2 separate regions of the Homo sapiens genome follow, and region 1 is linked to region 2. Evidence: fine-mapped expression QTL. Tissue or cell type: transverse colon. Region 2 holds a variant in brackets; the other region holds the start of a gene. All regions are shown on one strand. Distances are between the middles of the regions.

Region 1 (9,090 bases), 66 kb after region 2:
AAGTGTGGTGGCGGGTGCCTGTAGTCCCAGCTACTCGGGAGGCTGAGGCAGGAGAATGGCATGAACCTGGGAGGCGGAGCTTGCAGTGAGCGGAGATCGCGCCACTGGACTCCAGCCTGGGCAACAGAGCGAGACTCCGTCTCAAAAAAAAGAAAAAGGTATTTTAGATACTAACTTCATGGGACCAGCCAATGTGCACATCTACAAAAGTGCAACCCTGGAGATCTTCAGTTCTCCCTTCAAGCCCCATGAGAGAATCAGATGTTTAATTCCCACAGATCATTCAATGCACAATCACTGCGTGCCTACTGTGTGCCAGGCTCCAGCGCGCTGAGATGGACGGGTGCCCATCCAGGACCGGGGAACAGCCCAGAAGCCGCGTGCAACCCCTGGCCTCCTCCCCAGCACAAACGCCGACCCCTGCGCGACGGTCCAGACACTGGGGCCACCACCAAGGCCTGCTCCCAGCCTCCTCTCTGCCATGTCTCAGCTCACCCTGCACCCCCGCCAGGGACCAGGCCCAAGCCCAGGCCACTTGCTCTCCTCACAGCTGGCAAGGCCCGGCCCCTCTCTGCTCATCGGTGAACTCCAGACTTTATCCCAGCACCCCCAGTTCGTCCCGACATCCCCCCACCTTTTTTTTTTTTTTGAGACGGAGTCTCGCCCTGTCACCCAGGCTGGAGTGCAGTGGCGCAATCTTGGCTCACTGCAATTTCTGCCTTCCGGATTCAAGCCATCCTCCTGCCTCAGACTCTGAGTAGCTGGGATTACAGGTGCGTGCCACCGCGCCCAGCTTATTTGTGTATTTTTAGTAGAGACGGGGTTTTGCCACGATGGCCAGGCTGGTCTCAAACCCCTGACCTCAGATGTCTGCCCATCTCGGCCTCCCGAAGTGCTGGGATGATAGGCGTGAGCCACTGCGCCCGGCCTCAGCTGCTGTTTTCTTTCTCTCTGCTGTGTGGCCTGTGGCTGTCAGCAACCCATCGGGTCCGTTTGTTCCCACAGCCCCAGGACAGATGTGTCTGAGTGACCTTGTTTCAATCATGGAAACTGAGGCACAGAGCACTTGGGACACACTGCTCTGCGGACCTCTCAGCCCCAGGTCCCGCCAACACATCCAAGCCAGTACTTGTCCCTCCTGAGCCTGTCCTGGCTTGTGATGCTCCAGCCAGAAGTCTGGGGACCCCCACCACAGCCCCCCACGCCCTCACCTGCCAAGCTGCCTCCTCTCCTGGCCACAGGAACTCGCTTCCTCCAAAGAGGACCTGCATCCTCTACCCCTCATTTCTGCCGTCCCCACCGAGCCCGCTGCTGTCTCCTGCCTGGAGTCTGCAGCTGCTACTCCCCAGCCTCGCTCCTGGGCCCATCCACGGCGCGTTCCACCCTCAATGCGGATCTGGTCACACTGGGCCACAGGGCCTCCCTCACTCCTCCTGCTCCGGCCTTGCCATGGCTCCCACCTGCCCAGCCCCTCTGGGCTCTGGGCCTTCCATCCCTGAGCCTGGGGCACTGCACTCTCCATCAACATCACTTGCTCAGGGGGTCGTTCTGGACCAGGTCAGTGCCCCCTCTCCATTTTCAACCCTCCTGAAATGCTAAGGAAACACAGATGACCTTTCAACAAGGCAGGCTTCAACTGCACAGGTCCACTCATATGTGAATTTTTTCAATAAAGGCTGCCCCAACGGTGCCGGCCTCTCCTGCCTCCCCTTCCACCTCTGCCACCCCGGAGACAGACCCACCCTCCTGCTCCTGCTCCTCAGCCCTCAATATGAACACAAGGACACAGGCCTTCATCGTGGCCACCTCCACTGTGTGAACAGCAAACAGGATTTCTCCTTTTATTTTTTTTCCTTTTTTTTTTGAGACAGAGTCTTGCTCTGTCGCCCAGGCTGGAGTGCAGTAGCGCAACCTCGGCTCACTGCAACCTCCGCCTCCCGGGTTCAAGTGATTCTCCTGCCTCAGCCTCCCAAGTAGCTGGGACTACAGTTGTGCACCACCACACCCGGCTAATTTTTTGTATTTTTAGTAGAGACGGTGTTTCACCACGTTGGCCAGGATGGTCTCAAACTCCTGACCTCATGATTCGCCCGCCTCGGCCTCCCAAAGTGCTGGGATTACAGGCGTGAGCCACCGCGCCCAGCCTGTCCTTTATTTTTTTTGAGATGGTGTGTCACTGTGTCGCCTGGGCTGGAGTGCAATGGCGCAATCTCGGTTCCCTGCAACCTCCACCTCCTGGGTTCACGAGATTCTCCTGCCTCAGCCTCCTGAGTAGCTGGGATTACAGGTGTGCGCCACCACGCCCGGCTAATTTTTGTATTTTTGTAGAGACAGGGTTTCACCGTGTTGACCAGGCTGGTCTCGATCTCCCGACCTCGTGATCTGCCCGCCTCGGCCTCCCAAAGTGCTGGGATTCCAGGCGTGCGCCCCCGCACCCGGCCCCTTAGACTTTTCTGAATGTATTTTCTGTTCTCCAGCCTGTTATTGTGAGAACAGGAGGCTGGTGTGCATTGACCAAGTGTCCTCACAAGGCCTCCGGTCAGCGAGAAGCCATTCCTAGTTAAGTTCGTGGGAGTCAAAAGTTGTACTTGGATTTGAGCTGAGTGGGGGTCCACGCCCCTAACCCCGCATGTCGAGGGTCCGCTGTCCCAGGCCCGCCCACCTTACCTTGCTGCTATCTCCCGCTGGGCCTCATTGCCCTCTCCTGAGCCCCCCGGGGGCAGACCCCTCACCTACTTTTCTCCAAGGGGTCCTTGTCCTGCCTCCATCTTCCCCACTTTGCAACCGAGCCAGCGGTCCCTCAAGTGCAATCGCATACATGTCCCAAGGTCAGCCGGTGCCCGGGGCGCCCCACCTCCCCCCTCAAACAGAAAGCCTGGGATTCTCCAGCTGCACCTGCTGCTGGGTGAGTTCCAGCTGCATCCAACCTACCCCCTCCCCAAAGAGCACAAAGACCACCCAGGTGGAGGGAGCAAACCCACCGCCCCTCACTCCAAGCTAGGAGAGGCCCAGCAGCTAAGGACGACAGAGACAGGGACGGCGACACGGACGGCACAAGCCGTAGGAGGCCCCGGAACCCTCCAGGGGCAGGAACCTCTGCTAAGTACCGCCCAGGGCAGGACCCCACGAAAGGAGACCCAGCTGCCCATAAACACCCAGGAAGAAGCCAGAACACGTTAACAAAAGCACCCGAAGGTCAGAAGGGAGGGCAGGACCCTCCCCCTCCAGTGCCCGCAGCAAGAAAACCCAGCCCCTGCCCCCGACCAATGAGGGGCAGGGTAAGAGGGACCGGGGAGTGGAGGGAACCTGGGGCCTGGGGCCGGTACCCCGCACACTGGCAAAGACAGATACTGGGCCAAACCCACTTCTTTCCCAGAAAGGAGGGCTGGGGGCTGGGGAGGGAGGGACCCCGGAGCTGGGGGTCTCTGGGTTGGAAGGGCCCGGAGATGGGAGTCTGGGCAGGGGTCTAGGGTGGTGGCCTGGTGGCAGGGGATCATAGGATGGGGTGCAGGGGGTAGCAGGGCCCAGGGGAGACAACCTTCTGCAGAGTCCAGGGTCCAGAGCCTGGCAGTGGCGGAGCTGGAGGTGGGTGGTCACTGAAGTGGGAGGTGGCAGGGCCCAGGGGTCTCTGGCTGAGGTGGGGGTCCGGGGCTGGAGGGGCTGTGGATGGTAGTCTATGATCTGGACTGCAGGGCGGGCAGGGGGTATCCCTGGAGGGGAGCAGCATGGTTTGAAGGTCTCTGATCCAGATCATGTGCTGAGCCTGGGGGTCTCCGGTGGGGGTCACTGGGTCTGGAGGCAGCAGGGAGGACGCAGGGAGCAAGGCCTAGGGGTCTTGGCGCACAGGGGTGCGGGTGGGAGTGGCAGGGTCCCTGGATGGTGGGGGAAGAGGGAGGGGTCTTGTGGTCATGGGTGGGGGTGGAGGAAATAGCACGACCCCTGAAGGGAGGGGTCCTGGAGTTCAGGAGTCATAGGTTGGGGGTTACGGACTGAGGTGGTGAGGACTGGGGACGGGGGGTCTCAGGTGAGAGCGGAGAAGTCTCTCCATCCTGGGATGCAGGGGTGACACACTTGAGTGTAGTGGGGTCCCAGGGGGCCCCGGGAGTAGAGAGTGGAAGGGCAGTGGGCAGGGGTGAAGGACCTGGGGAAGGAGGGGTCCTGGAGAGTCCCTGGGTACAGGGACGGAGGGGTCACCAGTAGGGGTCCCAGGGGGAGAGGGGCGGCAGGCAAGGGTGCAGGGCCTGGGGATGGAGGGGTCCTGAGGATCCCCGGGTATAGGGATGGAGGGGTGTGGCATGTGGGGTCATGGGTCCTAGAAACAGTGGGTTGGGGTCCTGGGAATGGAGGAGCAGATAGGGGTACACGTCCCAGGGTTGGAGGGTCACAGGAGTCCCAGGGGTGGTGGGTGGGGGTGCAGGGCCAGGGCATGGAGGGGACCCAGGGATGCAGGCCAGGTGGGGTCCAGGGATGGAGGGGCCTGGGGTGTAGGCAGGGGTTCCAGCCGGAGGTGGAGGGGCCCAGGGATCTGGGGGCAGAGGTGTCTGGGGACCTGGGGTGCAGGGAGGGGTGAGGTCCAGGGATGGAGCGTCCTGGGGATGGAAGAATGGAGGGTCCTAGGGTGCAGGCGGGGGGTGGAGGGCCCTGAGGATGGGGTATTCAGGGTTCTGGGGTGCGGGCTGGGTGGGGTTTGAGGATGGAGGGGCCCAGGGGCTCCAAGTGCAGGCCGAGTTGGAGGGTCCCAGGAACGGAGGGTACCGGAGTGCAGGCTGGGTGGGTCCAGGGACGGAGGAGAGCAGGGGTCCCAGGGGTACAGGGCCTGGGATCCCGGGGAACAGGCTGGGGGCGCAAGCCAGAGGTGGAGGATCCAGGGGGGCCTGGGGATGGAGGGGTGCAGAGGCCCAGAGTGCAGGCCTGGTGGGGTCTGGGGACAGAGAGGTGCAGAGGCAGGGACAGAGGGGTGCAGAGCCCAGGGAACTGGGTGGAGTCTAGGGATGGAAGGGTGCAGGCCCCGGGGTGCAGGCCGGGTCGGTTTCAGGACCGGAGGGGTGCAGGGGTCCCAGGGACAGAGGGGTGCAGGGCCTCAGGTGCAGGCCCCGGGGTGCAGGCCGAGTTGGGTTCGGAGCCTGAGGATGCAGGGGTGCAGGGGTCCCGGGGACAGAGGGGTGCAGGGCTCGGGGATGGAGGGGTGCGGGGGTCTCGGGGACAGAGGGGTGCAGGGCCTCAGGTGCAGGGCCCGGGCAGCAGGCTGGGTGGGTCGGGGCCAGGGCTGGCGGGGTCGGGGCGCCCACCTGTGCGCGGGGATGCGCTGCGAGCTGAGCCCCTTGCCCACCAGGAAGTGCACGTCGCACAGCACCTCGTTGTTGAAGAGGAAGGCGAAGCGCTCCTGCACGGTGGGCTTGCTGGCCTGCCAGTTGTACGCGGCCTCGCGCTGCAGCGCCGCCGCCCCCGGGCCCGCCGCCTCCTCCGCCCGCTCCGCGCCCGCGGCCTGCGCGTCTGTCCCGGGGCCCGGCGGGGCGGGCGGCGTCGGCCCAGGGGCGGCGGCGGCGGCGGCGGCGGCGGCGGCGGCGGCGGCCGCGTTGCCGGGGGCCGGGGTGGCGGCGGCGTTGGCGCTGGGCCCGGGACTGCCCCCCGTGCCCGGGCCGACCCCGACCCCCGGCGGGCACGACGCACGCCCGCCGCTCCCACCCGCCGCCATTTTGTGGCTGCGGCGTGGGCGGGGGAGGGGAGGAGGGAAGGAGGGAGGGGAGGAGGGAAGGAGGGAGGGGAAAGGAGGAGAGTAGGGGGAGGAGGGGGAGGAGGGAGGGGAGGGGAAAAGAGGAGGGAGGGGAAAGGAGGGGAGGAGGGAGGGGAGGGGAAGCGGGAAGGAGGGAGGGGAGGAGAGGGAGGGGAAAGGAGGGGGAAGGAGGGAGGGGAGGAGAGGGAGGGGAAAGGAGGGGGAAGGAGGGAGGGGAGGAGAGGGAGGGGAAAGGAGGGGGAAGGAGGGAGGGGAGGAGAGGGAGGGGAAAGGAGGGGGAAGGAGGGAGGGGAGGAGAGGGAGGGGAAAGGAGGGGAGGTGGGAGGGGAGGAGGGAGGGGAGAAGGGAGGTGAATGGGGGAGGCTGTTGCAGGGGAGGGGACGGGGAGGAGAGGGAAGAGTAGGAGGGGCCTGTAGAGGGGAGGAGCTGGTGGAAGACCTCTTGCTCCACTCCCTAAGCATCCTGACCTGAAGCCCAGACTCCAGACCGAGGTCCAGAATTTGGGGTCCAGGCACCAGGCCCCAGACTCCAGACCGGGAATCCTAAACCCTGGAGCACAGACCTCAGTCCGGGATCCCAGGCCTCAGACCTTGAATCCTAGATCCCAGACTCTGAACCCCAGACTTCAGACTCCGGATTCCAGATCCCATACCTCAGACCCGGAACCCCCAACCCAAAGACCAAGCGCAAACTCCAGACCCCAGACCCCGGACCCAGGTGGCGGGCCTGCTCCGTGGCGCAGGCTCCGCTGTACAGAGACATAGCCTGAGGCCGGGAAGCTGCGGATGAGCGAGCAGGATGCAGGCCACGTGCACTGACACTCAGCAGACGCCCAGCACCCTCTCCAGGCCAGGTGTGGGGGGTGGTCAGTGTGGACGGAGCTGGGACTCCCCCAAAACGCTTACTACATACATAATGTCAAGGTAGACAAATGCCACAAAGATTGAGGAACCAGGTCGGGCGCAGTGGCTCACGCCTGTAATCCCAGCACTTCAGGAGGCCAAGGCGGGGGGTGCATCACCTAAGGTCAAGAGTTGGAGACCAGCCTGGGCAACATGGCAAAACCCTGTCTCTACAAAAAATACAAAAATTAGCCAGGCGCGGTGGCTCACGTCTGTAATCCCAGCACTTTGGGAGGCCGAGGCGGGCGGATCACCAGGTCGGGAGATCGAGACCATCCTGGTGAAACCCCATCATGGTGAAACCCCATCTCTACTAAAAATACGAAAATTAGCCAGGCTTGGTGGCGGGTGCCTGTAATCCCAGCTACTCGGGAGGCTGAGGCAGGAGAATCACTTGAACCTGGGAGGCGGAGGTTGCAGTGAGCCGAGACCGCGCCATTGCACTCCAGCCTGAACAACAAGAACAAAACTCCGTCTCAAACAAACAAACAAACAAACAAAACAAAACAAAAAAAAAACTAGGCGTGGTGGTACGCACCTGTTGTCCCAGCTACTCAGAAGGCTGAGACGGAAGCATCACTTGAGCCTGGAAGGTTGAGCTTTTGATGAGCTATGACTCCACCACTGCCCTCCAGCCTGGGCAACAGAGCAAGATCCTGTCTCGAAAAAAAAAAAAAACAAAGAAGAAAAAGAAAATAGGGTATTAAAAAAACCCAAGTGATAATGCTATTTTCAGTTCTCCAGAGTGGGTGGTTGAGGTAGTTACAATTTTTTTTTCTTTTTTCTTTTTTCTTTTTAGAGTCTCCCTCTATTGCCCAGGCTGGGGTGCAGTGATGGCGATCTTGGCTCACTGCAATCTCAGCCTCCTGGTTCAAGCAATTCTCCCGCCTCAGCCTCCTGAGTAGCTGGGGTTACAGGTACCCGCCACCACGCCTGGCTAAGGCTAATTTTTTTTTGTTTGTTTGTTTTGTTTTTGAGACAGTCTCGTTCTGTCGCCCAGGCTGGAGTGCAGTGGCGCGATCTTGGCTCACTGTAAGCTCCGCCTCCCAGATTCACGCCATTCTCCTGCCTCAGCCTCCCGAGTAGCTGGAACTACAGGCGCCTGCCACCATGCCTGGCTAATTTTATATGTGTGTGTGTGTATGTATATACATATATATATATATATATATATTTTTTTTTTTTTTTTTTTTTTTTTTTGAGACAGTCTTGCTCTGTCGCCCAGGCTGGAGTGCAGTGGCACGATCTCAGCTCACCACAACCTCCGCCTCCCGGATTCAAGCGATTCTCCTGCCTCAGCCTCCTGAGTAGCTGGGATTACATGCACCACCACGCCCGGCTAATTTTGTATTTTTAGTAGAGACGGGGTTTCTCCATGTTGGTCAGGCTGGTCTCGAACTCCCGACCTCAGGTGATCCGCCTGCCTTGGCCTCCCCAAGTGCTGGGATTACAGGCGGGAGCCATCACAGCCGGCCTCTAAATGTCAACTTTCTTATCTCTCATCTCATACATTTGCAAAGTGACATCTTTCCAGCCAAATCCTAAAGAGGACATCTGTGCAGTCCCTTCTAGATGAAGGTGCAGAACAGGCATACCTGCCATGGTGACAGAAATTAACAAAATGGTAGGTTGTCTGAGGAAAGGGTGAACTTTACGGAATGCTGAGATGTTCACGATTTTTTTTTTTTTTTTTTTTTTTTTTTTTTTTGAGATGGAGTCTCGTTCTGCCACCCAGGCCAGAGTGCAGTGGTGCAATCTCGGCTCACTGTAAGCTCTGCCTTCCAGGTTCATGCCATTCTCCTGCCTCAGCCCCCCGAGTAGCTGGGACTACAGGCGCCTGCCACCATGCCCGGCTAATTTTTTTTTTTTTTTTGTATTTTTAGTAGAGTCGGGGTTTCATCGTGTTAGCCAGGATGGTCTCTATCTCCTGACCTCGTGATCCGCCCACCTCGGCCTCCTAAAGTGCTGGGATTACAGATGTGAGCCACCGCGCCTGGACTTTTTTTTTTTTAAAGAGCTGTAGGCCAGCCATGGTAGCTCACGCCTGTAATCCCAGCACTTTCGGAGGCCGAGGCAGGCAGATTACTTGAGTTCAGGAGTTCGAGACCAGCCTGGCCAACATAGTGAAACCCTGTCTCCACAAAAAAATACAAAATTAACAAGGTGTTCTGGTGTGTGCCGGTAGTCCCAGCTTTTGGGAGGCTGAAGTGGGAGGATGGCTACAGCTGGGGAGGCTGAGATTGTGCCACTGCACTCCAGCCTGGGCGACAAAGTGAGGCCCTGCCTAACACACACGCACGCGTGCGCGCACACACAGGCACACACACACACGGGATCTCACTTTGTCGCCCAGGCTGCTCATGAACTCCTAGGCTCAAGCAATCTTCTCGCTAGGCCTCCCAAAACGCTGGGATTACAGGTGTGAACCACTCGGCCATGTGGAGATTTTTTTTT
Region 2 (10,461 bases):
CTGGACGGGGTCCCAATGGGAGGGCCAGGTCTGGGGGTGAGAGGCCAACCATGTGTCCTGCAGGACCGTGCAGCGGGCAAATGGGGTGAGATGTTGGAGGAGCTGGCTCTGTTCCCTTCACCCCGGTGGGAGGCGAAACCCCAAGTGGTCTGTAGTGTCTGGATTTACTGTGCCTGCTGTGCCTTCGGACTTCCTTGTGTGTCTAGGGGCTTCCTGTCTGATTTGAACCTGTCTAGTTCCTCTGAAGAGGATGAGGGAGCAGCGCCTCATTGCCTGGGCTCTGGGCAGGTCTGGGAGCCAGGCCGTTTGCAGGATGGCCCGCGATGGTGCAGCACTTTGTGCAGACAGATTTTGTGGAATTGCCGATTTGGGTTTCTTCTTTTCTTCTCCTCCTTTTTAATAATACAGTAATTACTCTGGGCTACAAAGGAAGTAGGCGAGGGTTTTTTTAATTGAAAGTTCCTGTTGCTCATCCCAAGCTTAGGGGAAGCCAGTATGCCAGCCATTAATTTGGGGATTGGGGTAGTCCTGTTGGTGTGCCAGGCACGGTTGGGAGGGGGGGCACTGTGTCTTTTGGAACTGGTGGGGGTTACCGCGCGCCCGAGTGGCAGACTCTAGCGCCCCAGCAGATGCGTCCGCAGAGCCACTGGGACGGACGGAAGCTGAGCTTAGGGACAGCCGGAGTTGCTTGCCCTGGGGCATCTGGAGAGGGGGATCCTGTTGAGCGTTTGATGTTGCCTCCTTTCTGCACCCCCCACCGAGCTGCCCCAGGCCCCCAGGGGCTCATGGTCCGTCAAGGCCTTGACCGAGGCCTGGCGGAGGGCGGGTGGTGGATGGAGGCAGCGCTGTGGGTGCTGTTGGGGCCGAGTGCCGGGCACAGCCTGGCAGGGGCTGCGGGCCTCGGGTGGCAGTGGGCAGGCCAGCATGTGGGGCTGGCTGACTTTCTCTGAACCCAGAGGGGACACAGGGCCCATGTGAAGGAGGCCTGGCCCGAGTCCTGGTTAGGGTTGCGGTGGTGGCGGGCAGCTGTGGGCTTCGTCCTCAGGTCAGCCTCAAGTCCTGTGTCCAGCTAGGGCTCGGTGGCCGTGCGCGTGTTGGGTCGAGCTCTGGTGTCAGGCGTGCCGGGTCCGCCTCCCCCATCCCGCGGATCTGCAGATCTGCAAATGCTCCGCCGGCAGCCACACGAGAGAACCTGTTGGTTGGCGGCCTCTGTGCAAGGCCGTCTGAGTGAGGCCTGCAGTCTGGAGGCTCCCTAGGTCGGGAGGCTCCGCGTCTGCTTCTTCCTCATTCTGGAGTTCTCGTGGGGCCCGTGCTGTGGGGCTTCCTGGGAAGTGGGTGGAGCGCCCATTTTACAGATGAGGAAGTCGAGGCCTACCTGGCCTGCTTGGGTAGAGGAGAAGGTGGTGTTTCCCGAGGGCTGACTCCCACACCTGTGCTTCTCTGGTCACCCGCCGTGCCAGTGGGAGCAGTGACAGCGAGGGGTGGTGGCCCTGCGGCCAGGGGACGGGCCTCACCGCCTTCCCCATCCTCTCTGCTGGCTCTGTCCAGAGGGCTGTGCCGCCCTGTGACTGGCACGTGGGTGCAGCCGTCTGCTGGGTGGGTCTGTCCGGGAGCTTGACTGGCCTGGCTGGGTGGGGGGGGGTACCCCTTTGTGCTACCTCAGCGAGGGCTCAAAGTGAGGGTCTGGGACCACCAGAACGGTGTATTCAATGCACTGCGGGCAGCCCTGCAGCGGGCAGGGATTGAGTGAGGGGTGGGGCCTGCCTGGCTCCTGGCAAGCACCCGTCTGGCGGGCGGGGCCCAGTGAGCCTCCTCCCTTTGCCGGGTCCTCCTGTAGTGGGGCAGGAACCTCTAGCATCCCACCCTTGCTGCCCTTTTTCTGCCCCGCTCACCACCCACATCAACTTGTCACCAGCAAGGGCATGGGACAAAGCAGGACATGCCCCGGGTGGCCAGCGTGAGCTAGCTGTGCCCAGGAGCATTGCCCATGCTGTCCCCCAGGCACTGTCCTGAAGCCCTGCTGGGTTCTGAGTCCTCCAGGCTCCGCGGCCCCTTCTCGCCCTGCCCAGAGTCTCTGGCCACCACCGCTGCTTGGGGCCCTGCACCAGCCTGTGCGCCCGCAAGGTTGCCAGGGCCCCTCTGCAGGTGCAGCGTGAGCTGTGTCCTGGGCCCACAGGGGAGCCGCTTCTCAGACCCCCGGGCTGGCCCCAGGCTCCCCCGGCAGCACTCAGGCGGCCCTGGCCCCCGGTGCGGCTGACTGTTCGGGGCACGCGTCTGAGGTGTGGGGATCATCTCCCCCTTGCTCAGAGCCCCCAACGTGTCCCCTGCACAGGGAATCGGGGCAGCCCCCTGCCAGCCCTGCCCAGGGATCCCTCCTGTCACCCTCAGGCGTGCTCCTGGGTGGCCCAGCGGCCTCCCTGCACCGTGAGGCCCGAGACAGTTTCGCGTGACATCATGTTGAAAACAGCCAGCTCTGGCCGGGCGCGGGGGCTCCCACCTGTCATCCCAGCACTTTGGGAGGCCGAGGTGGGCGGATCACCTGAGGTCAGGAGTTCAAGACTAGTCTGGCCAACATGGCAAAACCCCATCTCCACTAAAAATACAAAAATTAGCCGGGCGTGGTGGCGTGCGCCCATAATCCCAGCTACTCGAGAGGCTGAGGCAGGAGAATCACTTGAACCCGGGAGGTGGAGGTTTTAGTGAGCCAGGATCGCGCCACTGCACTCCAGCCTGGGCAACAGAGCGAGACTCCGTCTCAAAAAAAAAAAAAAAAAAAGCTGGTTCTCCCTTGATGCGCATCTGCTGAACTTCTGGGGCACGCTGGGGTAGAGCAGTGGGTCCCTCCCTGGAGAGGCCATGGGGTGAGGACCGAAGCTGTGGGTGCCAAGTGGGGCAGGCAGCCCAGTGGAGTGGGGCAAGAGACTCTGGTCTGGCCGGCCTGACCCGTGGGGTATGACTCTTGTTACGGCAGATTCCATCTAGGAGCGGAGGCCACGCGTATGTTCCCGGGAGAGGTGGGAAGTGCATCCCGTGGCCTATCCCGGGGAGGTCACTCCCATTCCATACCTGCAGGGGGAGCTAGCTGCCTCACGTCTGTGTCTCAGGCCGCGCAGAGGAGGGGGCGCAGGTGAGGGCAGCGGGAAGAAAGACTGCAAGAGGCTCGGGGGTCACGGGCCAGGGCTGGCCCATCACTATTTATTCGTTTATTTATTTATTTATTTATTTTTTATTTATTTATTTTTTTTAAGATGGAGTCTTGCACTGTTGCCCAGGCTGGAGTGCAGTGGCCCGATCTCAGCTCACTGCAAGCTCCGCCTCTTGGGTTCACGCCATTCTCCTGCCTCAGCTTCCCGAGTAGCTGGGACTACAGGCGACCGCCACCACGCCTGGCTAGTTTTTTGTACTTTTAGTAGAGACGGGGTTTCACCGTGTTAGCCAGGATGGTCTCGATCTCCTGACCTCGTGATCTGCCCGCCTCGGCCTCCCAAAGTGCTGGGATTACAGGCGTGAGCCACCGCGCCCGGCTATTTATTTATTTATTTATTATTATTATTATTATTTTCTTTGAGATGGAGTCTCGCTCTGTTGCCCAGGCTAGAGTGCAGTGGCGCAATCTTGGCTCACTGCAAGCTCCGCCTCCCGGGTTCACGCCATTCTCCTGCCTCAGCCTCTCCAGCAGCTGGGACTACAGGTACATGCCATCACGCCTGGCTAATTTTTGTATTTTTAGTACAGACGGGGTTTCACTGTGTTAGCCAGGATGGTCTCCATCTCCTGACCTTGTGATCTGCCCGCCTCGGCCTCTCAAAGTGCTGGGATTACAGGCATGAGCCACTGTGCCCGGCCTATTCATTTATTTATTTAGAGACAGAGTCTCGCTCTGTTGTCCATGTTGGCCAAGCTGGTCTTGAACTCCTGACCTCAGGTGATCCACCTGCTTCAGCCTCCCTCATAGCTGGGATTACAGGCGTGAGCCACCGTGCCCGGCCCTATCGCTATTTAAAAGGCAGAGAAAATCTTAGAGGTTTTTTTATTGTCACCAGCGGTGTTTCGTTGATGCGTAATTGCCTTTGGAGGCTTGAAAAAAGTTGTGCTTAAAGGTAATCCCTCAATTATCTGGAAACTTCCACCCTCCAGAGTGAGGCACCCCAAGTCCTGGTCTGGATTCGTGGACAGAGTCCCTGCCTGTGAGGCCTGATGGCCAGTCCTCTCGCCTTGGCCGTGGTGCTTCAGGCCCTGTTGCAGGTGGGACCCGCCCTCCTTAGGGACCTTGTTTCCCAGGTGATGCTCATGTAATCTGCGGTGACCTCTGCCCCTTCCCATCTGACCTCTGTCCCCAGGAAAGATGGCAGGCGTGCGAGGGCTCATCCTGTCCGCGGCAGTTGTGCCCCTCGGGCTTCTGCTCCAGTGGTCCTGGGGCAGGGCAGCTGGCGCTGATGCCCAGGCTCTGCCTGGGGACAGTTCCCAGGACGGGAGCCTGAGGGCAGCGCACGGGACCAGCGTGAGGACACGGACTGGCCCGTGTCTGCCTCTGACTTGCTGGGTGTGCCTTTGAGTTCCTCTGAGGGTGGGTGCGCCGAGGGGGATCCAGCTGGGCCCTGGCCACGTGCAGGCCAGCCAGAGCCCTGGAGCCTGCAGGTGGGCTGGGACAGGGCTTGCGACCGCAGGGGTGGTGTGCGTTTGCGCTGGCGTCTGCACAGGTGTGTGCGTGCTGTGCCATCACGCTGGTCAGGCCTGTACGCCGTGGAGAGGGGCGCTGTGTGGGGCTCGCTGCCTGAGCCCTGGGTGGACCGTGGCTGCCCCATGAGTTGTCGGGGACCTCCGCTGCCCCTTGGACCTCGCCCGCGGCCCTGGGCAATGGGTGTGGTGACGTCCTGGGGCCCCCATGAGTCAGCTCGTCCTCGTGCCCGGGCACTGGCCTCTCCTTCCTGTGGGCGCACAGCCCCGGTTCCTCTGAAAGCTTCGTGGGCCGGGACCCGGGATGAGCTGGTTAAACCCTGGCCCTGTGAGCAGGAGGTGTGGCTTCGGGGGGCGGCCCCGCCCTGGGCTCAGACTTGATCCTGCACCGGAGGGAGCCATTCTGGAAGGCCGCTGCCCCGGGCCCTGTCCCTCCCCCTCTCATCCCCAGGGTGCTGGCCAGAGCCGGGCTCACAGCGTTTCTTAAAATTAACGATCCCGGCCGGGCGTGGTGGCTCACGCCTGTAATCCCAGCACTTTGGGAGGCCGAGGCGGGTGGATCACGAGGTCAGGAGATCGAGACCATCCTGGCTAACACAGTGAAACCCCGTCTCTACTAAAAAGACAAAAAATTAGCCGGGCGCGGTGGCAGGCGCCTGTACTCCCAGCTACTCGGGAGGCTGAGGGAGGAGAATGGCATGAACCCGGGAGGCGAAGCTTACAGTGAGCTGAGAC[C/T]GCGCCATTGCACTCCATGTGGGCGACAGAGTGAGACTCCGTCTCAAAAAAAAAAAAAAAAAACGCAAAAAAAAAAAAGATCCCGTCACACTGACCCAGCTCACTGTTCTCTTACCAGCCTTATTTCGGTGTGGTCCTTAGAGCATGAGCCACTTTTTTTTGCTGGGAACATAATCCACGTTTGGTAAAATTCGGCAACGTGTGCACGCAAGTGGTTTTTGTACAGCTGACCCTTGAGCAGGGTGGGGTTTAGGGCAGCAGCCCCTCATGTAGCAAAATACCCTCGTATAGCTTTCGAGTCCTCCAGATGCCGCTGCCGACAGCCTGCTGGTGACCAGAGGCCTCGGGAGGACACGTGGTCCGCGCACACATACCTCGTGTGTTGTGTTAGGTGCTGCGTTCTCACAGTGAGGGAAGCTGGAGACCAGAACATGTGGAGAAAAGCAGAAGGAAGAGAAACCCTGTTTGCTCTTCACGCAGTGGAAGTAATGCTCATGGAAGCCTCTGTCCTCGTCGTGTTCACGTTGAGGGCTGAGGAAGGGAGGGTGGGTCTCGCTGTCTCGGGTGGCAGAGCGGGAAGGAGCCAGGAGAGGCTGGCGCCCTCAGGGCAACCTTTATTGAAAAAATCCACGTCAGAGTGGACCTGTCAGTTCAAACCTGCCGTGGTCAAGGCTCCTCTGTGAGTGCAGCCACCACCTGTAATTCCAGAGTGTTCTCATCACCTGCAAAGGGAGCCCTGGCCCCATCAGCAGCCAGCCTTCCACACCATCCTTTCCAGAACCTTCCCACCTTCCCAAATTGAGACGCTGTCTTCGTGAAACGTTCACTCCCGTGCCCTCTCCAGCCCCTGGCACCCCCATCCTACTTTCTGGCTCTGTGACTCTGAGGGCTCCAGGGACCTCCTAGGGGTGGAATCACACGGGATGAGGCCTGGTGTGTTTGGCGTCTCTCACTGAGTGTGACACCCTCGGTGCATCCGCGCCATGGCCCGCGTCCGAGTCTCGCTCCTGTTCGTGGCTGAGTCGTGTTCCGGCGTGTGGGTGGCCACGTGTTTATTTCTGTGATAGATGTTTGCATGGCATCCGCGTGTGGCTGCTGCGAGCACCCGTGTCCGGTTCCCGTGTGGCTGCGTGATTCTTCTGTCAGGTGGACTTCTAGCGGTGGAACCGCTGGTCACAGGGCCACTCCCGGTTGGACCATTTGAGGAGCCGCAGACGGCCATCCATACCTGCACTGTTTGGGTCCCCTGCCGGGTTTTGGGGACTGGATCTCTGCACAGCGACGACCACTCCCCTCTTCCGGTGACTTGGTTTCTCCTGTCCTTCGGCCCGATGCTTCTCTGGCCTGCAGGGCATCAGGGACCCTGCTGTCCTGATCCCCATGCCGTCTAGAAAGCCAGGGGTCCTGCATGTGCCCGGTGTCCCCACTGCCTTGTCAGGCACAGGGCCAGATCCTGCACCCTGTGACGAGCACGGCCAGTGGGACAGACAGATGGATGTGCTGCCCGTGACCTTCGCCACAGCGAGTTCAGAGGCCGGAGGCATCCAGTGTCCACAGAGTGACCGGTAGGCCCCAGCCCCACAGGATCATCGAGGTGGCCCTGGCCTTTCGAGGCCACAAAAATCAACGTTTATTTTTATTTATTTTATTTATTTATATATTTATTTATATATTTATTTATGAGACGGAGTCTCGCTCTGTCCCCCAGGCTGGAGTGTGGTGGCGTGAGCTCTGCTCACTGCAAGCTCTGCCTCCCGGGTTCACACCATTCTCCTGCCTCAGCCTCCCGAGTAGCTGGGACTACAGGCACCCGCCACCACACCCAGCTAATTGTTTGTATTTTTAGTAGAGACGGGGTTTCACTGTGTTTGCCAGGATGGTCTTGATCTCCAGACCTCGTGATCCGCCCTCCTCGGCCTCCCAAAGTGCTGGGATTACAGGCGTGAGCCACCGCGCCTGGCCATCAATGTTTATTTTTAAGTAGCAAAAGAGAACTCAGCAGTGTTGGAGAACTTGAACATTACAGCAACATCTGAAGAAGATGTTCTTTCACAAACCTCAGATTCCAGGAGATGAGCACCGTCCGCTTTCCAGAGAAAATTGTCTGAGGCCTCTGGGAGACAGGAGGGGGTGCACTTAGAAACAGCCAAGGCCTCCTTCCATGTTGGGACGGACGGGCCTTCCTGGGCTGGCCCGGCCTAAATCTGCTGCCGCCCACCGAACACCAAGGCACCTTCTCGTGCCCCAGAGGCCACCAGCACCCGTCCCCCTGCCTCCCTCCAGCCAGTGTCAGGTGGGGACCTGGCCGCTGGAAGGGAGGTGTCACCTGCTCTGGGGCATCCAGGAGGGAGGGGCTGCGGGAGTTTTGCTGGAGACCCTCCAGGTGGGGGTTATGGGGTATCATGGCGGAGCGTGTTGGGAAGTTTTCGGTGAGCTGGGCGTTTATTCGCCTTGGTGCCCCCCTAGATCCCTGGGTGATCCCCGTGCCCAGTTTTCAGGGGAGACCATGGGGGTCAGAGAGCTGGCCAGGCGGGTGGTCTGTGTCTGTCCCCTGCTGTTGAAATGAGGGGAGGTGAGAGGAGACGCCGTGTGCCTGGGGAGGCAACACTTTCTACCGTTTGCTGGTTTATAAAAATCAAAGATGGCCAGGCACGGTGGCTCACGCCTGTAATCCCAGCACTTTGGGAGGCCGAGACGGGCAGATCACGAGGTCAGGAGATTGAGACCATCCTGGCTCTACTAAAATACCCTGTCTCTACTAAAAAAAATACAAAAAATTAGCCGGGCGTGGTGGCGGGCGCCTGTAGTCCCAGCTACTCGGGAGGCTGAGGCAGGAGAATGGCGTGAACCCGGGAGGCGGAGCTTGCAGTGAGCCGAGATCGCACCACTGCACTCCAGCCTGGGCGACAGAGTGAGACTCCGTCTCAAAAAAAAAATAAAAAAAATCAAAGATGGGGGCCTGCTGGGACCGTTTGATTTCTTCCCATTCAGACCCTGCCAGATCCTGAGGCTGGCCCAGCTGCCTGTGTCCTCTGGGGCTCCCTGAGGAGGCAGCACCAGCTGTGGTGTGCATGACGGACAGGGGTCCCAGTTGGGGGGTGCAGCCTCCCGATGGGCCAGGATGGGGGATGCTTGGGTGCCCTCAGGATGTGCAGGCTGGGCGGGAGGAAGCGGTGAGAGTCCACCCCTCCCCACCTTCCTCTTCTCTGCTGTTTTTTTTTGGAGACAGAGTCTCACTGTGTCGCCCAGGCTGGAGTGCAGTGGTGTGATCTCCGTTCACTGCACGCTCCGCCTCCCGGGTTCACACCATTCTCTTGCCTCAGCCTCCCGAGCAGCTGGGACCACAGGCGCCCGCCACCACAGCTGGCTAATTTTTTGTATTTTTAGTAGAGACGGGGTTTCACCGTGTTAGCGAAGATGGTCTCGATCTCCTGACCTCGTGATCCACCCGCCTCGGCCTTCCAAAGTGCTGGGATTACAGGCGAGAGCCACCGGGCCCGGCCATTCTCTGCTGTTTTCTGACTCAACATCATGAAACAGGACCTTAAGCTGAGAAGTGGTGAGATTGGGGCCATCCTCATTTCCACATAAGGCCGTGTTCCTGTTTACTGGGGGCTAGGACTTGGCATGTCTTTTTCGGGGATAGCCCAACCCTTCTGTGTGAAAGGGGTCGTGATGGTCACTGCAGGACAGCAAGCACACCTTGGCCCCTCAGTGGGCAGTGGGTGCAGGGCTGGACGAGGGCCCAGGGGGCAGAAGCTAGTGCGCCGATAGCGTGTGTCATCTGCGGCCTGTGAGCACTGATGATGCCCGAGTGGCGGAGGGCGGGATGCTTCCACGTGCTCAACTTTTTTTTTTTTTCTTGAGACAGAGTCTTGCTCTGTCGCTCAGGCTGGAGTGCAGTGGTGCCATCTTGGCTTACTGCAGCCTCCACTTCCCGGGTTCAAGTGATTCTCCTGCCTCAGCCTCCCGAGTAGCTGGGATTACAGGCGTCCGCCACCATGCCCGGATAATTTTTGTATTTTTAGAAGAGACCGGGGTTACACCATGTTGTCCAGGATGGTCTCAAACTCCTGACCTCAAGTGATCTTCCCACCTCGGCCTCCCAAAGTGTACGTATCTTTTTAGTAACGATATATTTGACGATGATTAAAAAAACCCGATCCTTGAAGGCCCTTGATAGATGCTGAGGTGAGTACAGGCCTGACTCTGAGGGTCATGCGCCTAGCAGGCGTCGCCCGGTGCACAGGGCCAGGAGCTGAGTCGTGCGGGACTGGATGGAGGCCAGGGGATATAGAAGACCTGGGCAGCTCCCCAGGACCAAGCCCTCTCGCCTAGGGCTCCCCGGGGAGTTAGGCCGAACCCTGCTGTGCCCTTCACTCTGCAGCCCTCGTGGGGATCATCACAGAGGCAGGAGCTGGCAACCGAGGTGACTGCCTTCGAGTGGAGGGAAACCGGGGCGGGATGTCGCCCGGCGGCTCCCACACGATGAGGGGAAAAGGCACTCCAGTCTGGGTGGCAGAGCGAGACTCCGTCTGAAAAAAAAAACAAAGGAAATGTAGAAACGCAGCCCACCCAGGTTTTCCACGGCCGTTCATGGTTACGCTTCTGGAAGGACCCGTGTCCTCTCAGATGTAGCAGGATTCCGATGGGAGCCACCCCGGGTCCCACTCGCCCCCGGGACCTGCCGTGGGAGCTTTCTTTCCTGGTGGGGTGCCTGACTCTGCCTGCACGTTCCCCCCGCTGTCTGTGGCACCACTTGGGACCGGGGACCCCTGCCCCCCTGGCAAGACCAGGTCAGCTCTGCCCCCGGGCCACGGAGCAGGAAGCAGAGCTGAGGCTGCTGAGGTGGCGCAGGGTTGCTGTGGGGGCCTGTGCGCCATGGGGGCCTGGGTGGGGGTGTTCTCACTTCCCCCGGAGTCTGGAAGGCCGTCTTTGTGATGGATTTGATGCAGATGTGTCCACTTTGCTTTTGTTGATGGCGTCTGAGGCTCTGGAGTCCATGGCAGCCTTGCCTCCGTTTGCATAATCTGAATTTTGGGAAAATTG

Evidence for each region. PIP is the estimated chance that this variant, and not a neighbour inherited with it, causes the effect.
Region 1: BTBD2 starts here. The variant in region 2 is fine-mapped to the expression of BTBD2 in transverse colon (GTEx, PIP 0.99). The same link has a PIP of 0.9 or more in tibial nerve.

The regions. Positions count from the first base shown.
Region 1 is chr19:2,010,009-2,019,098 of GRCh38, forward strand. It overlaps BTBD2 (BTB domain containing 2), which reads right to left and starts at 5,706. Exons shown (of 9, transcript NM_017797.4): 1 at 5,289-5,706. The coding sequence starts at 5,695. LOC107985278 (a long non-coding RNA gene) reads right to left here. Exons shown (of 4, transcript XR_001753845.2): 3 at 7,175-7,292; 4 at 6,337-7,086. RefSeq lists silencers at 2,296-2,487, 5,303-5,352, 5,363-5,512.
Region 2 is chr19:1,943,065-1,953,525 of GRCh38, forward strand. The region is part of intron 1 of CSNK1G2 (casein kinase 1 gamma 2); the gene reads left to right. CSNK1G2-AS1 (CSNK1G2 antisense RNA 1) reads right to left here. Exons shown (of 3, transcript NR_033400.1): 2 at 10,322-10,442; 3 at 9,463-9,947. Among named protein-coding and RNA genes, the nearest start is that of CSNK1G2-AS1, 6.3 kb to the right of the region's middle. RefSeq lists enhancers at 1-95, 3,935-4,655. The variant C/T (reference allele first, on the strand shown) is at 5,413.